Homo sapiens: one gene and its partners. The protein of the gene in region 4 purifies or fractionates together with the protein of the main gene of each other region. This does not show direct contact. Each region holds a gene or a part of one and is shown on either strand. Other genes may lie near its edges. The genes, in order: IPO4, UBN1, NASP, ASF1B, CABIN1, MCM6 and UBN2.

The links.
Region 1: the proteins of ASF1B (region 4) and IPO4 purify together in Homo sapiens (affinity purification with mass spectrometry; 6 studies listed by BioGRID and IntAct, with this or other methods). This does not show direct contact.
Region 2: the proteins of ASF1B (region 4) and UBN1 purify together in Homo sapiens (affinity purification with mass spectrometry; 4 studies listed by BioGRID and IntAct, with this or other methods). This does not show direct contact.
Region 3: the proteins of ASF1B (region 4) and NASP purify together in Homo sapiens (affinity purification with mass spectrometry; 6 studies listed by BioGRID and IntAct, with this or other methods). This does not show direct contact.
Region 5: the proteins of ASF1B (region 4) and CABIN1 purify together in Homo sapiens (affinity purification with mass spectrometry; 4 studies listed by BioGRID and IntAct, with this or other methods). This does not show direct contact.
Region 6: the proteins of ASF1B (region 4) and MCM6 purify together in Homo sapiens (affinity purification with mass spectrometry; 5 studies listed by BioGRID and IntAct, with this or other methods). This does not show direct contact.
Region 7: the proteins of ASF1B (region 4) and UBN2 purify together in Homo sapiens (affinity purification with mass spectrometry; 3 studies listed by BioGRID and IntAct, with this or other methods). This does not show direct contact.

What each region holds. Positions count from the first base shown.
Region 1 is NC_000014.9:24,179,719-24,182,767, forward strand, and holds the end of IPO4 (importin-4), read right to left. Parts: intron 2,706-3,049; exon of another isoform or gene 2,686-2,705; coding exon 2,560-2,685; intron 2,446-2,559; coding exon 2,237-2,445; intron 2,126-2,236; coding exon 1,993-2,125; intron 1,900-1,992; coding exon 1,795-1,899; intron 1,206-1,794; exon of another isoform or gene 1,041-1,205; coding exon 971-1,040; exon of another isoform or gene 855-970; coding exon 724-854; 3' UTR 551-723; downstream 1-550. Other genes in the region: meiotic recombination protein REC8 homolog, read left to right, coding at 1-8, 82-550. UniProt on the Homo sapiens protein: Nuclear transport receptor that mediates nuclear import of proteins, such as histones, RPS3A, TNP2 and VDR. Serves as receptor for nuclear localization signals (NLS) in cargo substrates.
Region 2 is NC_000016.10:4,857,481-4,860,980, forward strand, and holds part of UBN1 (ubinuclein-1), read left to right. Parts: intron 1-509; coding exon 510-596; intron 597-1,087; coding exon 1,088-1,183; intron 1,184-1,544; coding exon 1,545-1,679; intron 1,680-2,384; coding exon 2,385-2,488; intron 2,489-3,183; coding exon 3,184-3,500. UniProt on the Homo sapiens protein: Acts as a novel regulator of senescence. Involved in the formation of senescence-associated heterochromatin foci (SAHF), which represses expression of proliferation-promoting genes. Binds to proliferation-promoting genes.
Region 3 is NC_000001.11:45,608,041-45,611,540, reverse strand, and holds part of NASP (nuclear autoantigenic sperm protein), read right to left. Parts: coding exon 3,204-3,500; intron 1-3,203. UniProt on the Homo sapiens protein: Component of the histone chaperone network. Binds and stabilizes histone H3-H4 not bound to chromatin to maintain a soluble reservoir and modulate degradation by chaperone-mediated autophagy.
Region 4 is NC_000019.10:14,123,090-14,126,589, reverse strand, and holds part of ASF1B (histone chaperone ASF1B), read left to right. Parts: intron 1-352; coding exon 353-468; intron 469-3,500. UniProt on the Homo sapiens protein: Histone chaperone that facilitates histone deposition and histone exchange and removal during nucleosome assembly and disassembly. Cooperates with chromatin assembly factor 1 (CAF-1) to promote replication-dependent chromatin assembly.
Region 5 is NC_000022.11:24,175,304-24,179,128, reverse strand, and holds the end of CABIN1 (calcineurin-binding protein cabin-1), read right to left. Parts: intron 3,019-3,825; coding exon 2,854-3,018; intron 1,626-2,853; coding exon 1,312-1,625; intron 1,077-1,311; coding exon 933-1,076; 3' UTR 501-932; downstream 1-500. UniProt on the Homo sapiens protein: May be required for replication-independent chromatin assembly. May serve as a negative regulator of T-cell receptor (TCR) signaling via inhibition of calcineurin. Inhibition of activated calcineurin is dependent on both PKC and calcium signals.
Region 6 is NC_000002.12:135,839,126-135,842,284, reverse strand, and holds the end of MCM6 (DNA replication licensing factor MCM6), read left to right. Parts: intron 1-1,333; coding exon 1,334-1,450; 3' UTR 1,451-2,659; downstream 2,660-3,159. UniProt on the Homo sapiens protein: Acts as a component of the MCM2-7 complex (MCM complex) which is the replicative helicase essential for 'once per cell cycle' DNA replication initiation and elongation in eukaryotic cells.
Region 7 is NC_000007.14:139,304,237-139,306,486, reverse strand, and holds part of UBN2 (ubinuclein-2), read right to left. Parts: 3' UTR 1-2,250.

The DNA of each region.
Region 1 (3,049 bases), on a different chromosome or scaffold from region 4:
GTGCACAGGTACCAGGGAGGTGGCACCTTGATGGGGTGGACCCGGGCTGAAGCCTCTGCTAATGGTTCTTGATCCCTATAGGGCAGTGGCACTGGAGCTGCAGGCTAACAGGGAGCCCGACTTCAGCAGCCTGGTGTCACCTCTCAGCCCCCGCAGGATGGCTGCCCGGGTCTTCTACCTGCTCCTGGGTGAGTGTATGCATGTGTGTGTGTGTATGTGGGGCAGGGACACAGAGACCAGAGGCCCGTACAGGGACTCCCCCGACCTGCCCTCTCCTCGCCTCTTGACCAGTGCTCTCAGCGCAACAGATTCTTCACGTGAAACAAGAAAAGCCATATGGTCGCCTCCTGATCCAGCCGGGGCCCAGATTCCACTGAGGTTAGAGTCCATTTACAAAGCTGCCAGGAAACCGGCCACTTCTAGTAAACCACGTCGTGCCTCACTGGGTCCTGCTTACCTCATTTCTGAATGTGCATTTCCAGCCTTCTTGCTCTCAGAGCTATTGTTCAAGCAGAAAACAAGCTGCTTTTATTACAGTATGATGTCATGACTCATTTGTAACAGATCCAGCCTCAGGGACAGCCCTGTAAGGCAGCAAGTGGGGCTGGCTCCAAATGGGTATGAGTCTCAGAATCTTTGGTAAGGCAGAACTGAACTGGGCTGAGAGGTGGTCTTAAGGCCTGGGCAGGCTCTATTCTCTCTGGACTGGCTGCAGCCTGCAGTCTAGGAGAGGCCCAGTACAGCCTGGAGCTCCTGAGCCTTGTCAACAGGCAGTGAGCCCAGAGCTGCTTGAAAGCTGTCGGTGTGCTGTTTGGCCAGGAACGTCAGGAGCAGCAACAGTGCGGCCTTGGTGTCTGGGTGGAGAGGGAGGGAGAAAGGTCGGGGCTCCTAAAGCCTCGCTGCCCCAGGCTCTCTGAGCCCTGCCACTCCCAGCCTCCCGCAAGCCCCTGCCTATGACTCCTACCCTCACCTGGTGGGATCTTGTTGTCAGCCAGAATGAGGCTGCAGATACGCAGAAGCTCGGGAGCCACATCTATAACCTGTGAGGAAAGAGTGGCTGACTCAGGGCAGCAGCCCCAGACCCCAGGTCTAGGAGGGTGGTCAGGACCAAGGAGTGGCAGAATCTCTTATCAGGGGGGTGGTTGCACCTGGTACTGATTCACAGGCATCCAAGACAACTATGAACATGAGAAGAACCAATGAAACTTGGTGCTAATGATTTTTTTTGGAGGGAATGGGGGATGTGGGACAAGATGATTAAAGTCATAGCCTCAAGACCTAAAGAAACCCAGACACTCAGGAGCTTCACCTACACAACAGTCTCTAAAGGTATAAGACAAGGGTGACACAAACACTCTGACATGACTCCAAACCTAGCTACTTGGTACAGGCAAAATCTCTTCAGAGAGCAGAGCTGATCTGATTGAAATGTATGGTGTGGTGGCCCAGAGGTACCCTGGGCTCCACAGAGCACAGTTTGAAAGGGCCCCGGTTTAGGAAACCAGCCTAGGAAAACTGCAACTTCTGGCTCAGACCAAAGGGTAGAAATGGAGCTTCCTCAGGAAAAATGCTACGTGGAGAAAGGAAGTCCCTCCTGTCCCATCACAGGACTGGCTGCCAATCCTTGCAGACAAATAAGAAATGGTGCAGGGAGTACCAAAAGAACAGCTGAAACTGTCACCTTGCATCAGGTGCAACTGACAGCCTGGAGCTCCCGAGCCTCATCAGCAGACAGTGCCTATCACTGAGTGGAGCGGCACGTTCCCCTCTGAGGGCTGCCAGCAGCAAGGTTACCTGGTCAGGGCTGCTCTGGTACAGGAAGCTGAAGAGGCGCCCAATGGTGACCCACTCCTCCAAGTCCTCCTTCAGTGGCAGGGCATGCAGTAGGGCAGCCAGCACCTGGGCACACAAATGTCTCAGGCCAACCTGCCCTGCCCTCCACCACCCTCCCTCCTCAGCTTCCAAGCCCTGCCTGATGTCTCCCTCCCTCACCTGGGGCTCTGGTTTCCTGGTGGGACTGGCCATCAACAGGCGGGCAAGTGCCCCACAGATGTTGTCACGGACACGATCATGTCGCTCCCGCGCCAGGAGGGGAAAAAGGAGCCCCAGCAGCTTGGGGAAGTGTCTGGTCCACAGTCAAGGAATGGCCACACGCTCAGGTAGACCTTGCCCACCTGCAAGCCCTGGGGACACTCCCCCAACCTCCAGTCCCTCCCGTCCTGCGAGCCAAGGATACTCCTGGGCAGGGTGGCCCCCATGCTCTGCCAGCACGCCCATCCCGAAGATGGCATTGCTTCGCACCTCGGGGTCTGCCTCTTGGGCGGTGCTCAACAGCACAGGGAGCAGCCGAGACACAAACTGGGCTGAGGCAGCACCCAGGCCCTGAATAGTCTCTGCCAAGGTCCCCACTGCAAAGGACTTCTCTGCCACTGTGCAGCCCTGTTTCTGATGGGGGAGAACAGGAAGGAGTACAGATCAGCCTGGGCCAAGGATAAAGGCTGTGGTGGGCACCGGGTGCACGAGGGGACTAGGGCTTGAAGCCAGAAGATGGACACTCACTGTCTTGCACACCAATAATGGCAGGAAACCGGCAAAGAATGGGGCAAAGGAGTCTCCCCCAGCCGCGGCTGCCAGGGCAGGGATGGCCTCTCCAGCGTGCTCCAGCAACATGGCGTCGTATTCAGCCTGTGGAGCCAGGTCAGGGGCTGGAGCACCAGGGCCAGCTCAGTGACTGTACACCTCCCTCCCACGCTCTGCCACCAGCTGCAGGGGTCCCTGGGGCTGCCCTTGGTTGATAGGGCTGGCCCCTCTCAAGCTGGGTGTTTCCATGACCCAGCTTCTTCCCCTGGCTCTTCTGCTCCTACCTATCACTCCAAGCACACCCCAGTCCACACTGCTCTCCTTCCCTGAACTCCCACTGGCTTAGTGGGATCAGGGTTGTATCCCTCTGGCCATTACCAGTCTCTTTTAGTGGCCCTGGCTGCCCCAGGCCAAGCCCAAATACACTGTCCACCCCTGTCCCTGTGGAGACTGCCTGGACCGCCTGGTC
Region 2 (3,500 bases), on a different chromosome or scaffold from region 4:
TTAACTTTGGTAGCACCGAGAGAAGTGCAAATTCAGACCTTTCTAAACAGTATGGCAGAACGGCTCTCAAGAACTTGCACCACATTCAGTGGGATTTTCACGTTTTTGAGCCCTTGACTATTTTGGAAGTCAATGGACTCTTTCTTAGAATGTTTTTAAATGCCTGAAGAAAATTTTAAGAGTTACAAAGGAAGTCCACTTTATTGAACGTGGTTGTGTAGCGACTGGGCATCTCCTTCTAAAGGCCCTTTGCTGTCTTTGAGTCCTGCAGCCCCTCATGCTGTGGTGGATGATTGTAGGCATTCAATCAAGTTTTATTAACCTACATTAAGGGAAATTTTACTTTCTTAATTAAGATAAACATTGATGAGATGGTAGCATGTTTTCTACCTTGCCCTTTTCTGGAAAACATTGTTTTTATAGAGGTATTGAGTAATCAGTGAAGTTTCTATGAATAAGAACATGGGAATATTTTCTGACTTATTTTTTGTGGAACGATCTCTTTACAGAAGAAAGATCTGTCAGATCCTTTCAATGACGAAGAAAAGGAAAGGCATAAAGTAGAGGCCCTTGCCCGAAAATTTGAAGAAAAATACGTAAGATTTCTCTCTTGAATAACAAAACAACCTCATTGGGTGGGAGACGTTTCCACACTGTATTCCTTTAGTGGATCATCATGTAATAAACACTGATCTGGAAGTAAGCCTTAAGCATGGAGAGAAGAGAAGCAGTTATTAAACCTAACGCATTAAGGTACAGAAAAGGGGCATGGCAGAGCTAGTGTGAAGAGCTAACTGGACAAATAACCGAGAAGGGCCTGTGGTCGCCTTAGAAGAAATATTTTGGTACAAAGCATAAGAAGCCATTTAGTTCATTTTTCTGTCCTAGGACATTTTATACAGGTACAAATATGTTCTATGTTAAAAGGTTTTCAGGAAAGGAGGTTTTGGGGTTTGTGTGTATGTGAGAGAGTGACTGTTTTAGTTAGTGCATTACCTCTTTGAGTCATAGCTGATGAAGTTCAAGGCCACAGTTAATTCTGTGTGTTTATTCAAAAAGCATGTAATCTATTGCTTTCACATTTTAGGGTGGAAAGAAACGTAGAAAAGACCGAATACAGGACTTGATCGATATGGGGTATGGTTATGATGAATCCGACTCCTTCATCGATAACTCTGAGGCGGTAAGTAGTTACTGAAAATGCCGTGTCAGACCCACTGTACCTGTAGCTCCTCCTGATACTGACCAGGAAGCTGGGGGTGGGGTCAGAGCAGTCGTGCCCTCTTCCCAGCATGAGGCAGTAGCAGCACTGATGAGAGACGAAATGACATTCTTTATCCGGGTCTTAGTTCCCTCTTCAGAAAGTGATGACCAGATCTGTCCAAAACACCTTGTAGCTCAGACATTCATGTTTGACCAGAGGATGTTTTAGCATGCTCTTGGAAGTGGCAGAGGAGCACAGTCACATCTCTCTCGAGACCCACTTTGCACCTTCGGACTGCAGAAGCAGAACTTGGAGCTGACAGTTTGTTTCCCATCTTCAGTATGATGAGCTTGTTCCTGCTTCTTTGACTACGAAGTATGGAGGATTTTACATTAACTCGGGAACCCTGCAGTTTAGACAAGCATCAGAGTCTGAAGATGACTTCATTAAAGAAAAGAAGAAAAAATCTCCAAAGGTTAGAATGTGCTTGCTTTTGGATTTCAGAAATGCTTTTTGACGTGACCCTATCAGATCAGTAGGTGACTTGCCAGAATACGTGGCGCTTGGCCGGCTCAGGAGGATGGTGGAAAGGCAGAGCCGTGCCAGGTTGATGGCTCGCCTCTTACACGTGTGCCCTAATGAGGACACGTGCCCGTGGGGGCTCTGTTCAGCACTTGGTCATTATGTCCATGTCACATGACATCCCAGCAGGCTCAGCAGGGGTCGTTTCTGGAGGTGGCCTCAGGGTGGGAAGGCTGTGGAATGAGGGAATGTGTACCACTCTTGCTGACCCTCTTCTGTGGACATGTAGAGGACTTCAGTTTCAGGGCTGCCATCCCACTGAAAACCAGTCAGCCTTAGGATCAGTGTGTTTAAAAACCTGTCTACCACTGCCTATGTGTTTAAGATGAGAGGTAGGGCCCACTTGTAACTTTCAAACTACAAAGGTTTCAGGCTCCAGAATGGTCACTGTTGTCTCAGCCCTGGGTGTTTCCAGGAGACACCGTCGGTGGGAATGCTGTGGGTTTGTGGTCCAGGGACTGATCTGAGAGCTTTTGTTCATGAAGGAAATGAGACAGGTCTCAGGATGTGCCCCGGGCGGAGCAAGGCCAGTGCCGTGTAGTGCACTTGCTCCCTGAGTTAGGGAGCCGTGTAACTGTGCCTTGTCTTTAATTCTCAGAAGCGGAAGTTGAAGGAAGGTGGTGAGAAGATAAAGAAGAAGAAAAAAGATGACACTTATGACAAGGAGAAGAAATCGAAAAAGTCCAAGTTTTCCAAAGCCGGGTGAGAGGCAGCAGCTTCTTTGCTAGGATAAAGCCTGAACTGTTAGGGCAGGACGACTGGGAGCTGACTCACCTCCTCCCCACAGCTTCGGAAGAGGCAGCAGGGCCTGGCCTTCCTGTCCTCCCGCACGCCTCCCGCAGTGCCATTCTGGGCATAGACGCTCACCTCTCAGTGTGTCAGATAGTTCCACTGTCAGTGTTGGCAGCTATTGTTGTCACTGTGTGACTGCTGATGTTTCTCGTCCTCTGGGGTGCTCCTCTCTGCCCCAGTTCTCCTTCTGTCTCCGCTGTTTTCCCTTGTTGTCTATGGTCATGCTTCCTTCTCCTCACTTGGTCTCACCCCAGCTTCTCTTCAAGTTGCTGCTGTTCTCTGCTGCTCCTGCTTTCTCCCTCTAAATACTTTTCTTGCTCTCCCTGCCCCTTTTTGCAACCTTTTATTTCAGCCTGGCAGTGGTTTCTAAAAACCCGTCGGAAATTTAGCATATGTGACACTGTGTTGCTAACCTGTATTAACTCTCAAGCTTTGGTCTCAGCAAGAACGAGCTCCATATGCCAAGAGGAGGGAGGAGGAATGACAGGGTGGACTGTGACAGGTTCTCCTGGAGACCATGACCCTGGGAGCAGGGGTGAAGGCCTCTGGAGTTCCCTTTGGAGGTGTCCTATAGTCTGAGTGACCAGTTTCCCTCTTGCTTGCAGCTTCACAGCCCTCAATGCCAGTAAGGAGAAGAAGAAGAAGAAATATTCTGGGGCTTTAAGCGTTAAAGAGATGCTAAAGAAATTTCAGAAAGAGAAAGAGGCTCAGAAAAAAAGGGAGGAGGAGCATAAGCCTGTTGCGGTCCCATCAGCGGAAGCTCAGGGCCTGCGGGAACTGGAGGGTGCCTCTGACCCCTTGCTCTCACTCTTTGGCTCTACTTCTGACAACGACTTGCTCCAGGCGGCCACTGCCATGGACTCGCTGACGGATTTGGACTTGGAGCATCTGCTCAGTGAGTCTCCAGAAGGAAGTCCCTTCC
Region 3 (3,500 bases), on a different chromosome or scaffold from region 4:
GAGCCTAGATCACGCCACTGCATTCCAGCCTGGGTGACAGAGCAAGACTCTGTCTCAAAAAAAAAAAAAAAAAAAAAAAAAAAAGTAATGGCGATGGCTTTCTCCTTAACCTAGCTCCCCACCATTCCTTGAAGATGGTACAGATTCCTCAAGAGGAACCAGTAATATTCTTCTGAAGCAATTATAGGAATTTTAATTTAAAAATTTGATGTAAAACTTCCAAGTAATTAAGATATTTTGTTTCAAATTAGAGGTTGTCTTCTAGTATTCTGGTATGAGTAGGAAGAGATACCAGGTAAGAATAGAAGATAACAATATCAATTTAATTTTTCCTACAAATTGGGAAGATGAAGTATTTACTTTTCTATCAATTATCCTACATATGTAAATCTACTTCAGCTTTTCTGCATATTCTGCTAGAGGATGGGCAGAGTTAATAAGACCATCCATCTGGTCTAACTTTGGGGAACTAAGCCCGGACCCACTTGGAAATGTGGATATGAGAAGATAATGGTGTATGGTGGGCCAGGTGCAATGGTTCACACCTGTAATCCCAGCACTCTGGGAGGCTGAGGCTAGTGGATCACCTGAGGTCAGGAGTTCGAGACCAACCTGGCCAGCATGGTGAAATCCCATCTCTAGTAAAAATACAAAAAAATTAGTCGGGCCTGGGGACATGTGCCTTTAGTCCCAGCTACTCAGGAGGCTGACGTAGGAGAATCGCTTGAACCTGGGAGATGCAGGTTGCAGTGAGCGAGACCGCACCACTGCACCCCAGCTGGGCATGGTGATACACACCCATAGTCTCAGCTGCCTGAGAGACTGAGGGAGGAAGATGGCTTCAGCATAGGAGTTTGAGGCTGTCGTGAGCCATGACTGCGATGCCACTGTACTCCAGCCTGGCAAAAGAGCAAGACCCGATTCAAAGAGAAAAAGAACAGACCAATTATCTTTATTAGAAGCAAATGTACAGCCCAACACATGGCAAAGAGTCAAGAGGTGGCAGTAAACAGGGTTTTAATTTTTAAGTGAAAAAAACTGCTTGGAAGTTTTCTGCAGAATGGTGCTGCCACGTAAAGGGAAATAAAGCACAGAAAGTAAGTGGTTGAGTACTCAAGCCAGAAGTTTGGGTAGCAGGCTTCTCCTTACTGTGTGACTAGGGCAAGTTACTTAAACCCCTTTCTCCCATTTCTTCTTTTGTAAAATATGGAAAACTGTATTGTCTTTACAAGCAGAACAGTATCTGATATACAACACCAAAAAATGCAGCATATGAAAAGCCTGGGGCTTTTAAAATATAGTTAACTTTTTAAATAAGTGACAGATTTTTTTTTTCTTTTGGAAGACAGAGACTCGCTGTGTTGCCCAGGCTGGAGCACAGCGGCATGATCTCAGCTCACTGCAACCTCTGCCTCCCGGGTTCAAGCGATTCTTCTGGTTCAGCCTCCCAAGTAGCTGGGACCACAGGCGCATGCCACCACGTCCAGCTAATTTTTGTATTTTTAGTAGAGTCAAAGTTTCAACATATTGGCCAGGCTGGTCTCAAACTTCTGACCATGTGATCTGCCCACCTCGGCCTCTCAAAGTGCTGGGATACAGGTGTGAAGCTACTGCGCCCAGCCCACGACAAAATTTCTAAGCAGTGGGTGTAGGAAAAGGATGAACACTGTCTTCTTCAATGTGTGGTAACTTGGGAAGAATAATATATTCAAGGCAGATCTGGGTTCAGATTCAGTATTATGACCCTAAACAAGTCATGTAACCTTTAAACCTCAACCTCATCACTGTAACTTGGGCAATACTACCTATCACATAGTATTGTTTTAGGATCAGATGTAATGTATGAGAGTTCTAACAATGTTAATTATGATCCAACGAGTTTTCGAACAATCTGTAAGGGACTGTGATATCTGTATTGTAGCTTACCATTCAAGGTCTTAGGGGTCAGCCAGCAGAGCTTTTTACCATCCTTGCTCACAATCATTAAGATCAAGACATGGGAGTTTTGTTTTTTTGTGTGTGTGGTTTTGTTTGTTTGTTTTTTGAGGAATTTAGTTCTGTGCTTTTTTCCATAAAGAACTCCTAAAGCTCCATTAAGAAACCCAATGGTGCTACCATTTTAGCCAATTCATTTCCAGTTACTGAGCCTGTGTTGGCTGGAGTACAGGGACCTGCACATAGGTAGAAGGAAGTTTACCAGAATGAGTTCAAAGTATTGAAGATGGGTCTCTGAAAATCTAAAACTTACGAGAACTCTTGAAGTAGTCTGGCAATTACAAGAAGTAACAATTAGTTGGAATATACCTGTGGTTATTAATGCCAATGTTAGATGAAACTTATATACAGTAGAATCCTCAAATGATAGCAAAAGTCAGACGTGCCAGTTATGTAATAATTAGAGGCTTATACACCTTAATGAAATTTAATCACACTTAGACCAATAGCATTATAGAAAGCATCCACACTTTATAATATTCTAAGTAACAAAAATTCAGTTTAGCAGCCGAAGCAAGCATGAAATGAGGAAGGAAAACAGGAAGAGAGCTAATGGTTATGTTTTCTGTTGCCTTGGGGAAGGTGGGGGGGGCCTGTTTTAACTAATGTGAATAAGCCTCTAAACACTTCCTGAAGACTTAAAGAGGGGCACCAGAATTCTTTAACTCTGGTGATACAACAGTCAAGGTTAACTGCCTTCATTTAAATGGCATGCCTGCTTCAGTGTACCAATTCAGTGGATTCTACTGCTCTGTAGCTGCTTCCCAACGCACAGAAAAGGAGTCATGTGAACAATAATTTTAAAATCCAGAGGCATGCAAGTGAACATCCATTCAGCATTCTCTGCCAGCCTAGCCCACTATTTCCCTACCTACCCCACCCCTCATCTACCTTTTCCATCCCACTTTATTGGCTAGTATGCTGCAACAAGTTACTGATAGCTAGCCAAGTCTCAGAAATCACACAGAAGGCCTATTTTGCAGTTAGTAAAAGTGTTAGTTTATAAGCCAGCTAAAGAAGACTTGCTGCTTTTGATTGAACTTACTTGACTATCACGACCTTGTTAAACTACCCCCCTTTTCATTTAGCCCTTTCCTAATCCAAAGGCAGACGGAAAATCCTGAATGGAAGGCTGACTTTTACCCATAATTAGTGAGTCAAATCCAGAATGTACTCCACCCACTGCAGCTCTTGCATATCCCGGTTACCTTCACCCTCTTTCATCTGTTCTTCTCTCTCTTGTGTCTCTTCATTAGCAGCTATCTGAACTTTGTCTTCAGGTGATTTCTCAGTAGCTCCCTGGGCTACCTTGGTATCAACCCCATCTCCAGCTGCCTCAGACTCTTCTACAGACAGCTTAGTCTCCTCCTGACTAGGAACCAGCTTTGCCCTGACCTTCTCCTCTAGTCCTGAGCCATCTTTTGTTTCTGTCAGTCTTTCTATAGAAGTCTGTGGTTCAATAGGAGTCTGATCTCCTACAACTGACGGTCCATTGACTGCACCAT
Region 4 (3,500 bases):
TGAGACAGGAGAATCGCTTGAACCTGGGAGGCAGAGATTGCAGTGAGCCAAGATCACACCATTGTACTCCAACCTGGGTGACAAGAGTGAAACTCCATCTCAAAAAAGAAAAAAAAAATTAGCTAGGCGTGGCAGCGGGCACCTATAATCCCAGCCACTCGGGAGGCTGAGGTATGAGAATCACTGGAACCTGGGAGGCGGAAGTTGCAGTGAGCTGAGATCGCATCACTGTATTCTAACCTGTGTGACAGAACGAGACTCCATCTCAAAAAAAAAAAAAAATACAAGAGCCTATCCCTGCCTTCTTGCTGTTGAGCTATTTCAATTAGTTAACCCTCCTATATCTTTGCAGACCTGGAGTGGAAGATCATTTATGTTGGCTCGGCTGAGAGTGAGGAATTTGATCAGATCCTAGACTCGGTGCTGGTGGGCCCTGTGCCAGCAGGGAGACACATGTTTGTCTTTCAGGTAAGAAAGATGAGGCCTTAGGCCTTAGCCCTTGATTCCTAGAAACATCCTCTTTTACCTGAAATCCCACAGAGTGCTTCAGGAATCAAAAGTTCAAGTTCAGCTGGGCACGGGCTCACGCCTATAGACCCAGCTACTCCAGGGACTGAGGTGAGAGGATTGCTTGAGCCCGGGAGTCTGAGGCTGCAGTGAGCCACTGCACTCCAGCCTAGGCAACACAGTGAGACCCTGTCTCTAAAAAAGAAAAAAACAAGTATTAAAAACATAGAGGCCGGGCACAGTTGCTCACACCTGTAATCCCAGCACTTTGGGAGGCCGAGGTGGGAGGATTGCTTGAGGCCAGGAGTTTGAGACCAGCTGGGGCAATATAGTGAGACCGCATCTCTACAAAAAATGTAAAAATCAGCAGAGCATGGTGGTGTGCGCCTGTAGTCTCAGATACTTGGGAGGCTGAAATGGGAGGATCACTTGAGCCTGGGAGATGGAAGCTACAATGAGCCAAGACCACACCACTGCACTCCAGCCTGGGCAACAGTAAGACCCAGTCTCAATCAATCAATTAAAACAATTTAAAAGTTCAGGTTCAAATCCTAGTTCTACTGTCAGGAACTATCTGACCTCTCAGAGGCCGTCAGGCCCTCCCTTCCCCCACCTCTGTGTCAAAGCTGCCACTGATTTACAGGCAATTCCCATTATTTACAAGAGTTACGTTCTATAAAGTTGCCGCGAACACTGAATTAGTGAATACTGAACCATTGCCCCAGGGGAAATACAGGGTTAGATTCTTGGAAGTCACATTTTCGTCAGCTGGTTAATACGTAAACTTGTATGTGTGTTTATGTTGAAAAGACACCAGGACGGCTATGATGGCTCAAACCTGTAATCCCAGCACTTTGGGAGGCTGAGGTGGGTGGATCGCCTGAGGTCAGGAGTTCAAGACCAGCCTGGCCAATGTGATGAAACCCCGTCTCTACTAAAAATACAAAAATCAGCCAGGTGTGGTGGCGCATGCCTGTAATCCCAGCTACTCGGGAGGCTGCGGCGGGAGAATCGCTTGAACCTGGGAGATGGAGATTGCAGTGAGCTGAGATCGCACCAGTGCACTCTAGCCTGGGTGATACAGCGATACTCTGTCTCAGAAAAAAAGGAAAGATACCTTATTTAATATATACAGTGGTTCATTTATGTTGAATTCACAGCCAACAGCACTATAACTCTCCTGAATGAAACTTCTCTAATACGCATATTTTCCATAAAGCCTTTCTTGTATCCTACACTGCACTTCAGCACTACCGTTGGGTGCCATCATAGACAGCAAACTCACCAACAAAAAGCACAAAACATGGAAAAAAGCACTAAGTAGGCTGAGGAAAGGACGCTCATTCACAGTGAGAGCTGAGACCAGAAGACAGAGTGTTGCCTTGTTTGACCTCAGGTGGGAACAGGCGTGGTAGGTAACTCTAGGTGGGAACAGGCATGGTAGGTAACTCCAGTTTTTCCCTGCTCTGTGCATGTCTGCAAGTGACTGTGAAAGCAAGCAGGTGTTCATCTTGGGGTTACAAATAAACTTAGCAGGTAGGTGAACTTGCACATATGGAACCCATGAATAATGAGGATGGACTGTAACTCCTAAATGGCTCTCATGCAGCACCCCACCTGGGTTGTCAAATGTAGATTCTGGCCGGGTGTGGTGGCTTCCAGCACTTTGGGAGGCAGAGGCGGGAGGACTGCTTAAGGCCAGGAGTTCCAGACTAGCCTGGGCCACATAGCGAGACCCCCATCTCTACAAAAAATAGAAAAATTAGCCGGGTGTGGTGGCTTGCACCTGTCGTCCCAGCTACTTGGGAGGCTGAAGCAGGAGGCTTGCTTGAGCCTGAGAGTTTGAGGCTACAGCGAGCTATGATTGCACCTCTGCACTGCATTCTGGGTGACAGCGAGACCTGTCTCTACAAAAAAAACATTAACCAGGCATAGTGATGCAGGCCTGTAGTGCCAGCTACTAGGGAGGCTGAAGCAGAAGACTCACTTGAGGCCAGGTGCCATGGCTCACACCTGTAATCTCAACACTTTGGGAGGCTGGGGCAGGCAGATCACTTGGGGTCAGGAGTTAAAGACTAGCCTGGCCAACATGGTGAAACCCTGTCTCTACTAAAAAATACAAAAATTAGCTGGATGTGGTGGTGCACATTTGTTATCCTAGCTACTCGGGAGGCTGAGGCACGAGAATTATTTGAATCCAGGGGGCGGAAGTTACAGTGAGCTGAGATTGCGCCACTGCACTCGAGCCTGGGCAACAGAGTGAGACCCTGTCTCTAAAAAAAAAAAAAAAAAAAAATAGGCTCGCTTGAGCCCAGGAGTTCCAGGAGTTTACAGTGATCTGTGATTGCACCACTGCACTCCAGTCTGGATGACAGAGGGAAAAGCTATCTCTTTAAAAAAAGAAGGCCGGTGCAGTGGCTCACGCCTGTAATCCCAGCACTTTGGAAGGCCAAGGTGGGCGGATCACAAGGTCAGGAGATTGAGACCATCTTGGCTAACATGGTGAAGCCCCATCTCTACTAAAAAATACAAGAAATTAGCCAGGCCTGGTGGCGGGCACCTGTAGTCTCAGCTACTCAGGAGGCTGAGGCAGGAGAATGGCGTGAACCTGGGAGGCGGAGCTTGCAGTGAGCCGAGATCACGCCACTGCACTCCAGCCTGGGTGACAGTGAGACTCCATCTCAAAAAAAAAAAAAAAAAAAAAGAAGAAAGAAAAAACAAATGGAGATTCTGAGTTCTCCAGGTGATTTTTCAGGATCCTCTGCTCGGATACACTCCCTTACCTCCATCACTGCTGTTACCGCCCTAATCCAAGCTACCACATCCTATCTAACCCCTTCAGCCACCACTACTAAATCCACTGACAGGCCCTATCTACTCAACAGTCAGGACTGGCCTCCTGGGTGTGCAACCCAGGCAGCTGCACAGGACCCCACACTTGGTGCGATACTCTGCTGTCACCGTCTGAAACCTAATAGCTTTTCTGGAGGGGC
Region 5 (3,825 bases), on a different chromosome or scaffold from region 4:
TAATCCTTTTTGATCAAGGAGCTTCATATTTATGTCTTGCACTGAGCCCAGCTATTCTGTGACTGGCCCCATTAGGGCGACTGTGATGGGAGTTAAGTACCCTCCCTGCCGGCCCCATCCCCCCTTTCCCTCCCTGACAGCCCCCTCCTCCCAGCCTCTCAGCTGCCCCAGCCCTGCCTGCCCTCCCACCGTACAGCCTCCCACCCACTGGCACCCAGGTGCGTTCTGGGGATGCACCTAACTCCCCTTTGAAGCCTGGCTCCAGCTGCACTAGAGGCGTCTGCCTGGCCCAGCCCCGAGTCGGCTCTCTCCTTACCCCACTGGGCACCCCCAGCCGCTGCTTTGGTTGCCTGGCTGGTCCCTGAGATGCTGGAGAAGGAGGGGGGCTAGGCCCTGCCCTATGGACTATGGCAGTAAAGGCCCAGAATCCCTGGGGACAGCAACTCTCCGCCAGAGACTCTGCCAGATTGCCCCCTAGAGGTGAGCAAAGAGGCAAAGACAACTGTTCCATCTTTATTAGAAAAGCAACCAAAAAAAGGGTGAGGGGTGAGCCTGGCCCTAAAGGACCCCTCCACTGTGACACAGGCAGAGCCGGCTCATCCCGGCGTCGAGGGGTGGATATGGCCAGCTGGGTGTGGGCAGATTTACAAAGTCAACACTTCATAGAAAAGGATGCCGCCTGGCGTGCAGATGGCGACCAATCCACCTTCACATGGCTAAGGCGGGCCCCTCCTCCTCTGGGCTCCCATGTGGTGTGGACAGCCTGACCTGGGTACAGGGAGGATGCCATGAGGAGGTGGGCTGGGCAGGCCTGGGGGCTGTGTGGGGAGTGGCATCCATGTGGGCCTCTGGTCCTGCCCAGGGTCCTGCCCAGGGGGCATTCCAGGCCTGGCTGGTCCCCTGGGGCGTGGCGGTGGGGCTGCAGTGGCCCCTCAAATGTCCATGTAGTCGTCGTCCTCGTCTGTCTCGCTCTCCAGCGAGGACTCCTGGCTGGATGTCTCCAGGACCTCCAGGGCTGGCTGGCATAGGCTCTCCTTCCTCACGTTGGCAGCAGACTGGGCAGAAAGGATGGCTGACTGCGGAGAGGGCCGGGCGGGGCACTGGTCAAGGATGGCTGGGCTCTGCCCCAAGCCCCTCTGCCACCTTCACCCCTGCCCCAGGCCCCCCTCCCACCCTCACCCCTGCCCCAGGCCCCTATGCCATCCTCACCCACACCCCAGGCCCTCCTGCCACCCCCACCCCCATCCTAGGCCCCCTTTGTAACCTATGCCTCCCACCCACACATGGCTCCAGCCCAGCCCCTGAGGTCACCTTCAGCTTCTGCTTGGTCTCCTCCGAGATGCTGCCTTTGGGGGAGAGCAGGGTTGGGGTGGGTGGCGTGACGGTGATCTCAGGGGGGAACTTGGTGGCGGCGGAGGGGATGACCAGCTTTGGCATGTTGGGCAGGGGGCGGGACTTAGCCCGGCTGGGCTCAGGCTTGCCTGGGTGACCCTCTGGTGGCTGGGCACTCCCACTGCTGGGGGCCTTGGAGCTGGCAGCTGTTGGGGGAGAGCTCAGGGGCTGAGTCTCACTCGCAGCCTCCTGAGCCTCCCCATCCCTTCTCGGCTCAGGCCTCAGTTTCCCCTCTGGAAGACAAAGGTACCAAGAGCACTTCCTGCCTGCCGCATCACACAGTGAGCACTTTATCTCGCCCCCACCCGCTCCCCCCAGGTCCTGGGCCTTTATGCTGTGTAGTTTGTGCTGGCTGGCAGGCTCCAAGGCTTCTACCCTGGGCAAATACTTGGCTCAGGCCTGCAGGGACCCAACTCTGGCTCTGAGCTGTGGGGTGCTGGGACTGTGAACCTTACCCAGTAACACCATGAACTCAAAGCCCAGGACCTGAGACTCCCTGAGCCTTGCTGGGTTCTGTAAGACCTCCAGGCATCATGCTTGCATGAACTGTCGTATTTCCACAACCATCCTAGGATGCATGTCCTATTGGTGTCTATGCCCCAGGGAGGACACTGAAGCCCAGAGCTGGTCGCTCAGCCAGGCATGGTCACTGAGCTGGCCCCAGGGCATCCACTTTCGCCTCATCCTCCAGTGGGAGCAAGGGGCTGAGTTTGCCCAGAGCCTGAAGGCTGGGCCAGTTGCAGGCCTGGCAGCCTCTAGGGAGCTGCACGAGCTGGGAGGACCCGGCTGGCCTGGCTCGTCTCCACATTCCTCTGCAGCCCCATGGCTTTAAAAGGAATGGGGTTTACACAGAGCCCATGCCTGGCCCCCAGGGGCTGGCGCCAGGTCCTGCCATCCCAAGTGGTCTGTGGGAGGCCCAGGCCAGGAGGAGTCCCCAAGGGGTCTGGCTGGTTGGGGCAGCTGGTGGGAACAGGCCGGACTGAGGCCAGGGCTAGAATCTGACGTGGCTGTCGACGGGGACGCCTGCTTGGCCCAGCCCAACCTGTCCACCCTTCTGCCTGCTGCTGATGTCCCTCAAGTGTCTGTCACCAGGCCCATGCTCCGCCCTGTCCATGCCTACTCCTCTTTCCCCACTCTGGGCTCAGCCTGGGTTCTGCAGTGGGCCCAAGCAGGCCGCCTGCCCTCGCTAGTACCCCTCCGTGATGCCAGGGGTGGAATAAGCCTCTGGGGTCCCTCTCTACCCAGCCCCTGACACAATGGGCCACGCATTAAACTCTTCAGCCTGGGCCTCTCCCTTGGCTCCCCTGTCCAGCCTGCACTACCCCCATTTCCTCCCCATCTCATTCCATGGGGCATCCCCAGGCCCTGCCCTTCAAGGCCAGGCCGGGAAACCCACCCTGGCTGCCAGCTGTGAGGCAGCCTCCTGGGGGCTGGTGCTGGGCTGCTCCCAACTCGCCTTACCCTGGCTGCAGGTGGGCTCAGCGCCTGTGCCCAGGGCAGCCTCTGCCGGCCAGCAGTGTGGCTCTGCCGGGGAACTTGTGGGGGCCATCTTCACCTGCGGACTGTGCCGTGGCTCCTGAGGCGGGAAGCTGGTGCCCTCTGCCACTCTCGCCAGCTCTTCTCCCTCTGTGGGGACATGGGCTCACTGCAGGTAATAGACTCATCCACCCCGCAGGCTCCAACGCATCTGTGTCAGGTCCTATGGGCCCAGGTTGTGCCCTGGGACACTGGGCAGGGGAGTGTGGCCAATGCTGGGGTCCTGGCTGAGGCAGTCCAGGTTGGTGCTGCCAAGAAACCACTCACCACCCAAGAGGACACTGGTAGGGGCTGGCTCCCCACCCCCAGAGGGCTCCTCCGCCTCCCGAGAGGGCTATACACCTGACCCAGTGGGGCCACACCTGAGTCTTCGAGGCCCAGCCTCTCTTAAGATCCCATCACAAGGCAGTGAGAGGGGATGGGGGGGCAGTGTCCACTCTCCCTCCAGCTCACATAAGCAGCATTCAGAAACGAGGTCAGGACCAAAATCCAAACAACCCAACTAAGACCAAAGTAGACGCTGGCACTATGGCTCCTGCCCAGCCAGCCACACCTTCCCTGGCCTGAGGCAGGGGCCAGGAATTGGGCTCAGTTGGGCCAAGGCCGGGATGGGCCTGAGGGGCAAATGCTGTGCCTGTGGCTGCTGGCCAGGTGACTACTCAGCATCGGTCCCCGGTTCCCAGGCCTCCAGGCCCTCACTTCCCTTGCTGCTCCCCACCTTCTCACTCAGGTCTGGACTCTCCCACCACACTGGTCATCAACCACTGCCTTTCCAGCCACCCCACCGCCTCCCCATCCCGCTCCTCTGCCAGGAGGCCCTCCATCCTCTCCAGCAGGGGGAGCCAGCTCCCCTCCTTGGTCAGCAGGAGTGACAGCTCCCGGTACAAAGCTGGGGCC
Region 6 (3,159 bases), on a different chromosome or scaffold from region 4:
CTCAGATCAGGGTCCAGAGTTGCTTTTCTAGTGGTGGGACATGTCTGTGTGCTCCTTGGGATCAGTGTAAAGTAAAACGACCCAGGCAAGGAATCTGCTTCAGGACTTTGGAACACACTGTGAAGCTAACTGATCTAAACTTGAATTACCTATTTATTTATTTATTTATTTATTTATCTTTTGAGAGAGTCTTGCTCTGTTGCCCAGACTGGAGTGCAGTAGCATGATCTCAGCTCGCCGCAACTTCCGCCTTCTGGGTTTAAATGATTCTCTTATCTCAGCCTCCAGAGTAGCTGGGATTACAGGTGCCCGCCACCACTCCCAGCTAATTTTTGTATTTTTAGTAGAGATGGTGTTTCACCATGTTGGCCAGGCTGGTCTCAAACTCCTGACCTCAGGTGATCCACCCACCTCAGCCTCCCAAAGTGCTGGGATTACAGGCATGAGCTACTGCGCTCAGCCTGGATTACCTTTTAAAATTTGGCTTACCACCTGAACTAATTTGCTACAGAAAACTAGAGAGCTTATACTGTGCTGATGAGATATGATGCTTCCTATGAAGGTATGTTAACACATAGAGTGAGTGCTTGAAAGTGTCCAATCTAACTTCAGGGGTAGATTTGAAAGGGCAATTTTTTAAAAAGTGTCCAGTCCCCCTTAGTGGCTTCAGTGTTTATACTGTGGAGCCTTGCCAGACTTCTTAGGATCAAATCACAGTTTCCTGAGTTCCTTTCTATGGGCTTGGCTAGGAGCTCTTCTCATTTGTGGACAGTTTTGACTAACCTGTAATTATATCGTGGGCTTAAAATCTGTCATCAAGATTTTAAGCCAGATGGCATGTTCTACCTTTTTTTTTATTAGCTCAGAGTGAAAAATTTTTCAGATGAATTTTCATAGATTCTTCTCCTAACTCTATGAAATGGTGGTATATGAAAAAGTTCAGTGGTCATAATTAAAAATTGCTGAATGATATTAAGTATGAAACAGACTTCCAATTAATTAGAAGATTTTGCAGAGTTGTTTAACCTTAAAATTCAAGCATTACTTCCTTTTTTGAAGTTGTATTTACAAGCATTTGATGTAATATATTTAAGTATTTCTTAATTTTCCACAAGGGGTTTATGGTATGAAAAGGTCAGCATCCTACTAGGAACAGGGTTTAGCAGAGCACTGATAGTGATTTTTAAAGTGTGGTCCTTTTCCTAGGAGTTTCTAGTTGGGAAATGAAAGAAAATGTTGATAGCAAACACTCGGAAGAAGGGTCAAGTCTTGTATATCTGGACATTGGTATAATACTGCTTGAAACCTGAGGACAAATATTTGTGTTTCACAGGATCATGTTCTAATTGAGCTCACCCAGGCTGGATTGAAAGGCTCCACAGAGGGAAGTGAGAGCTATGAAGAAGATCCCTACTTGGTAGTTAACCCTAACTACTTGCTCGAAGATTGAGATAGTGAAAGTAACTGACCAGAGCTGAGGAACTGTGGCACAGCACCTCGTGGCCTGGAGCCTGGCTGGAGCTCTGCTAGGGACAGAAGTGTTTCTGGAAGTGATGCTTCCAGGATTTGTTTTCAGAAACAAGAATTGAGTTGATGGTCCTATGTGTCACATTCATCACAGGTTTCATACCAACACAGGCTTCAGCACTTCCTTTGGTGTGTTTCCTGTCCCAGTGAAGTTGGAACCAAATAATGTGTAGTCTCTATAACCAATACCTTTGTTTTCATGTGTAAGAAAAGGCCCATTACTTTTAAGGTATGTGCTGTCCTATTGAGCAAATAACTTTTTTTCAATTGCCAGCTACTGCTTTTATTCATCAAAATAAAATAACTTGTTCTGAAGTTGTCTATTGGATTTCTTTCTACTGTACCCTGATTATTACTTCCATCTACTTCTGAATGTGAGACTTTCCCTTTTTGCTTAACCTGGAGTGAAGAGGTAGAACTGTGGTATTATGGATGAGGTTTCTATGAGAAGGAGTCATTAGAGAACTCATATGAAAGCTAGAGGCCTTAGAGATGACTTTCCAAGGTTAATTCCAGTTGTTTTTTTTTTTTTTTAAGTTTATAAAAGTTTATTATACTTTTTTAAAATTACTCTTTAGTAATTTATTTTACTTCTGTGTCCTAAGGGTAATTTCTCAGGATTGTTTTCAAATTGCTTTTTTAGGGGAAATAGGTCATTTGCTATATTACAAGCAATCCCCAAATTTTATGGTCTTCCAGGAAAAGTTATTACCGTTTATGATACTAACAGTTCCTGAGACTTAGCTATGATCAGTATGTTCATGAGGTGGAGCAGTTCCTGTGTTGCAGCTTTTAACAACAGATGGCATTCATTAAATCACAAAGTATGTTAAAGGTCACAAAAGCAAAATAACTGTCTGAGGCTAAGGCCCACGTGGGACAGTCTAATACCCATGAGTACTCAACTTGCCTTGATGTCTGAGCTTTCCAGTGCAATGTGAATTTGAGCAGCCAGAAATCTATTAGTAGAAAGCAAGACAGATTAATATAGGTTAAAACAATGATTTAAATATGTTTCTCCCAATAATTATCTCTTTCCCTGGAATCAACTTGTATGAAACCTTGTCAAAATGTACTCCACAAGTATGTACAATTAAGTATTTTAAAAATAAATGGCAAACATTAAAAACAAGAGTGAATACTCAAGTAGATTTGTCATGGGATTTTTATAAGAAGACTGGTATCAGGTAATGTATCTTTAAAGACTAGGCTGCTCTGCTGACGTAGTAACCATTTTTTATTCCTTTACTTTCCTAATAGCCTTGCTTTCACTTAAGAAAAAAAAAGGCTAGGCACGGTGGCTCACGCCTGTAATCCCAGCACTTTGGGAGGCCAAGGTGAGTAGATCACCTGAGGTCAGGAGTTCGAGACAAGCCTGGCCAACGTGGAGAAAACCTGTCTCTACTAAAAGTACAAAAATTAGCCAGGCATGGTGGTGGGCACCTGTAATCCCAGCTACTCAGGAGGTTGAGGCAGGAGAATTGCTTGAACCCAAGAGGTGGAAGTTGCAGTGAGCTGAGATCATGCCACTGCCCTCCAGCTTGGGCGGCAACAACAACAACAAAAAAAGATTCCCAGGCTTCACCCTCTACAGTCTATGGAAAGTCATGGGAGTCTATTAAAAAAAAACAG
Region 7 (2,250 bases), on a different chromosome or scaffold from region 4:
TGACCAAAGTTGGCCAACTTTCCAATTAACTATGTATAACAGTAATACTTTTGTCAACTGAGAATAAGTTCTTTTTAATTCCTCTAGACAATATTGGGGTAACCCTTGGTAATTTTGCAGGTATAGTAAAGAAAACCCAATTTTCTGACAGAGGGCACACTAACCCTACAAACAGCAGGGATAAGCAAAAAAGGAGGAAAGCTTATGGCTGCAAGCACAGCAAACACAAGATAGTTAAGATCTGACAATTTAAGGGCAGGTTGCCACACAGAAAAACATGTCAACTGGCTGGTCTTGGTTGATACTCCTAAATGTGCTTTGAGGGCAGACGGTGTTGTTAACTTCAAAAACAGAAGTATTTCCATGTTATCTTGGGTAATAGTTATCTTGTTTGTATTTATTAGGTTTCCATTAGTGCTCTGTTATAAAATATTTAAAACACAGATTTACAATAAAATCATTATATTATTATTAGCAAAGTGGGAACAAATAATGTGTAGAAAATTTTGTGAGGAACAAACATAAAATTTGATTCATATGGCCTGTTTGCAAAAGTAGGCTTATTTCAGGGGGAGTATGAAAATAAGCAAGGCAGACTATTATGAGAAATAGCCTCTAATGAAGATCTCCATCTCTTTAGAATAACCTTGAAAAGTAACAAGAGGAAGTCATGAAATGCCGCATTATACAGTAGCAAAATCTATTTTTTAATACAAAGGAGAAGAGGAAAAAAAAGAACACCTCTAGTCCCAGTGATGACCACTGATGACTGTAAGTCCTAGACACAGAGACCCTAATAATACTACTGCGATTCTGAAAAGCATTCCTGACTTGTTTAACAGTTTGGAAAAGTGTCCGAAGTTTAAGTACTAACGCACTATGAAATGGAGATACACAGGAAAGACTGAAAAGTAGAACTATCACAATATAAGGAAATTAAAGATCACAAGTAGCTACTTTCAAGCAAGTGGTACTTTGAGAGTCTATGAGAAAAATAAAATTTAATATCACATTATTCAAAGGCAGTCTGATTAAAATCCTGAGAGTCCCTGCCTGAATCCTCTGCTGGGATGTAAAGTCTTCTAAAGCAGGCCTGCACAGGGCTTTACTTCTCAGTTCTATGGGGACACAGGATAGGTTGCCAGAGTGAGTGAGAAGAGGATGTAAAAGACAATTTAACCTTTCCTCCCCAGACTCCTAATATACAATTCATATTCTAGTGTAGCAATATGATTAAGAGCTCTGAATAAAGAATGAAGACTAAAGGAAACCAAGAAAGAAGAATTCAACATTAATATTCAAAGCTATTTTTAATTAGAGTTTGATCACCCATTCAGCTCTATAAACCTGAACATTGTGTCATATAATCTAAAACTCTCAGAATTGAACACTGGGATGATTTTATCATTAACAACCCAAAGACATTCCATGATACTAACTACAGCTTTGCACCAGTGAAAGCATCTGTAGATAGTTTTTGAATACAGAGTTCACATTTTACGATAGATGAACACACAAAGTATCTCTATTTTATGCTTCTGTTAATTTTCCCTAGAAGAACAAACACACATTCAACAAAAACCCTTATGCCTTATTTCTTTGGGTCTTAACATTTGTTATCTGAGAATGGAAAAGACAGGGACATGTGAAAAAAAAAAGGAGTATGTTTATCTGCATAGTTGATATTTAGAGGCTACTAAGGCCTTATCTGGAAAAAGCAACAAAAATCCAAAAAGTGACTTACAGACACACACACACACACACACACACACACACACACCCTATCATTAGAGATTCAGTGGACCTTAGCCAATTCTGGAAATTAACCAGATGCTTTGTCTGCTTGGACCTGGTGCTTTCTACTAACTCACTTGAACCTGGTAACACTGGTTCCTCATCCCCAACATTTTGCTTTCCTGACCCTGAATATGTGCTACAATTTAAATTTACACACACACTCCAACAATCGTTGCTCAGCATTTAGCCCCAACTAAAACTGCAGCATCCATTTTTCTTTTCCTGTTGCTATTATTTTAAACGATAACGGGAAAATTCTATGTAGTAGTACTACTTAATATACAGGGATGGAAGGTGGGATAAAATGATCTTCGTCTCCTCCTGGGAGCTGGGGAAAACATGTTTCCTTCTACCCTGACCTTCCCCACCCCGACCCAGTTAGAAAGTGAATCCTGCCTTCCGTCTCCCATTTTCTTACAACCTGAGCAGCTGATGGCTCCACCTCTTTCATGG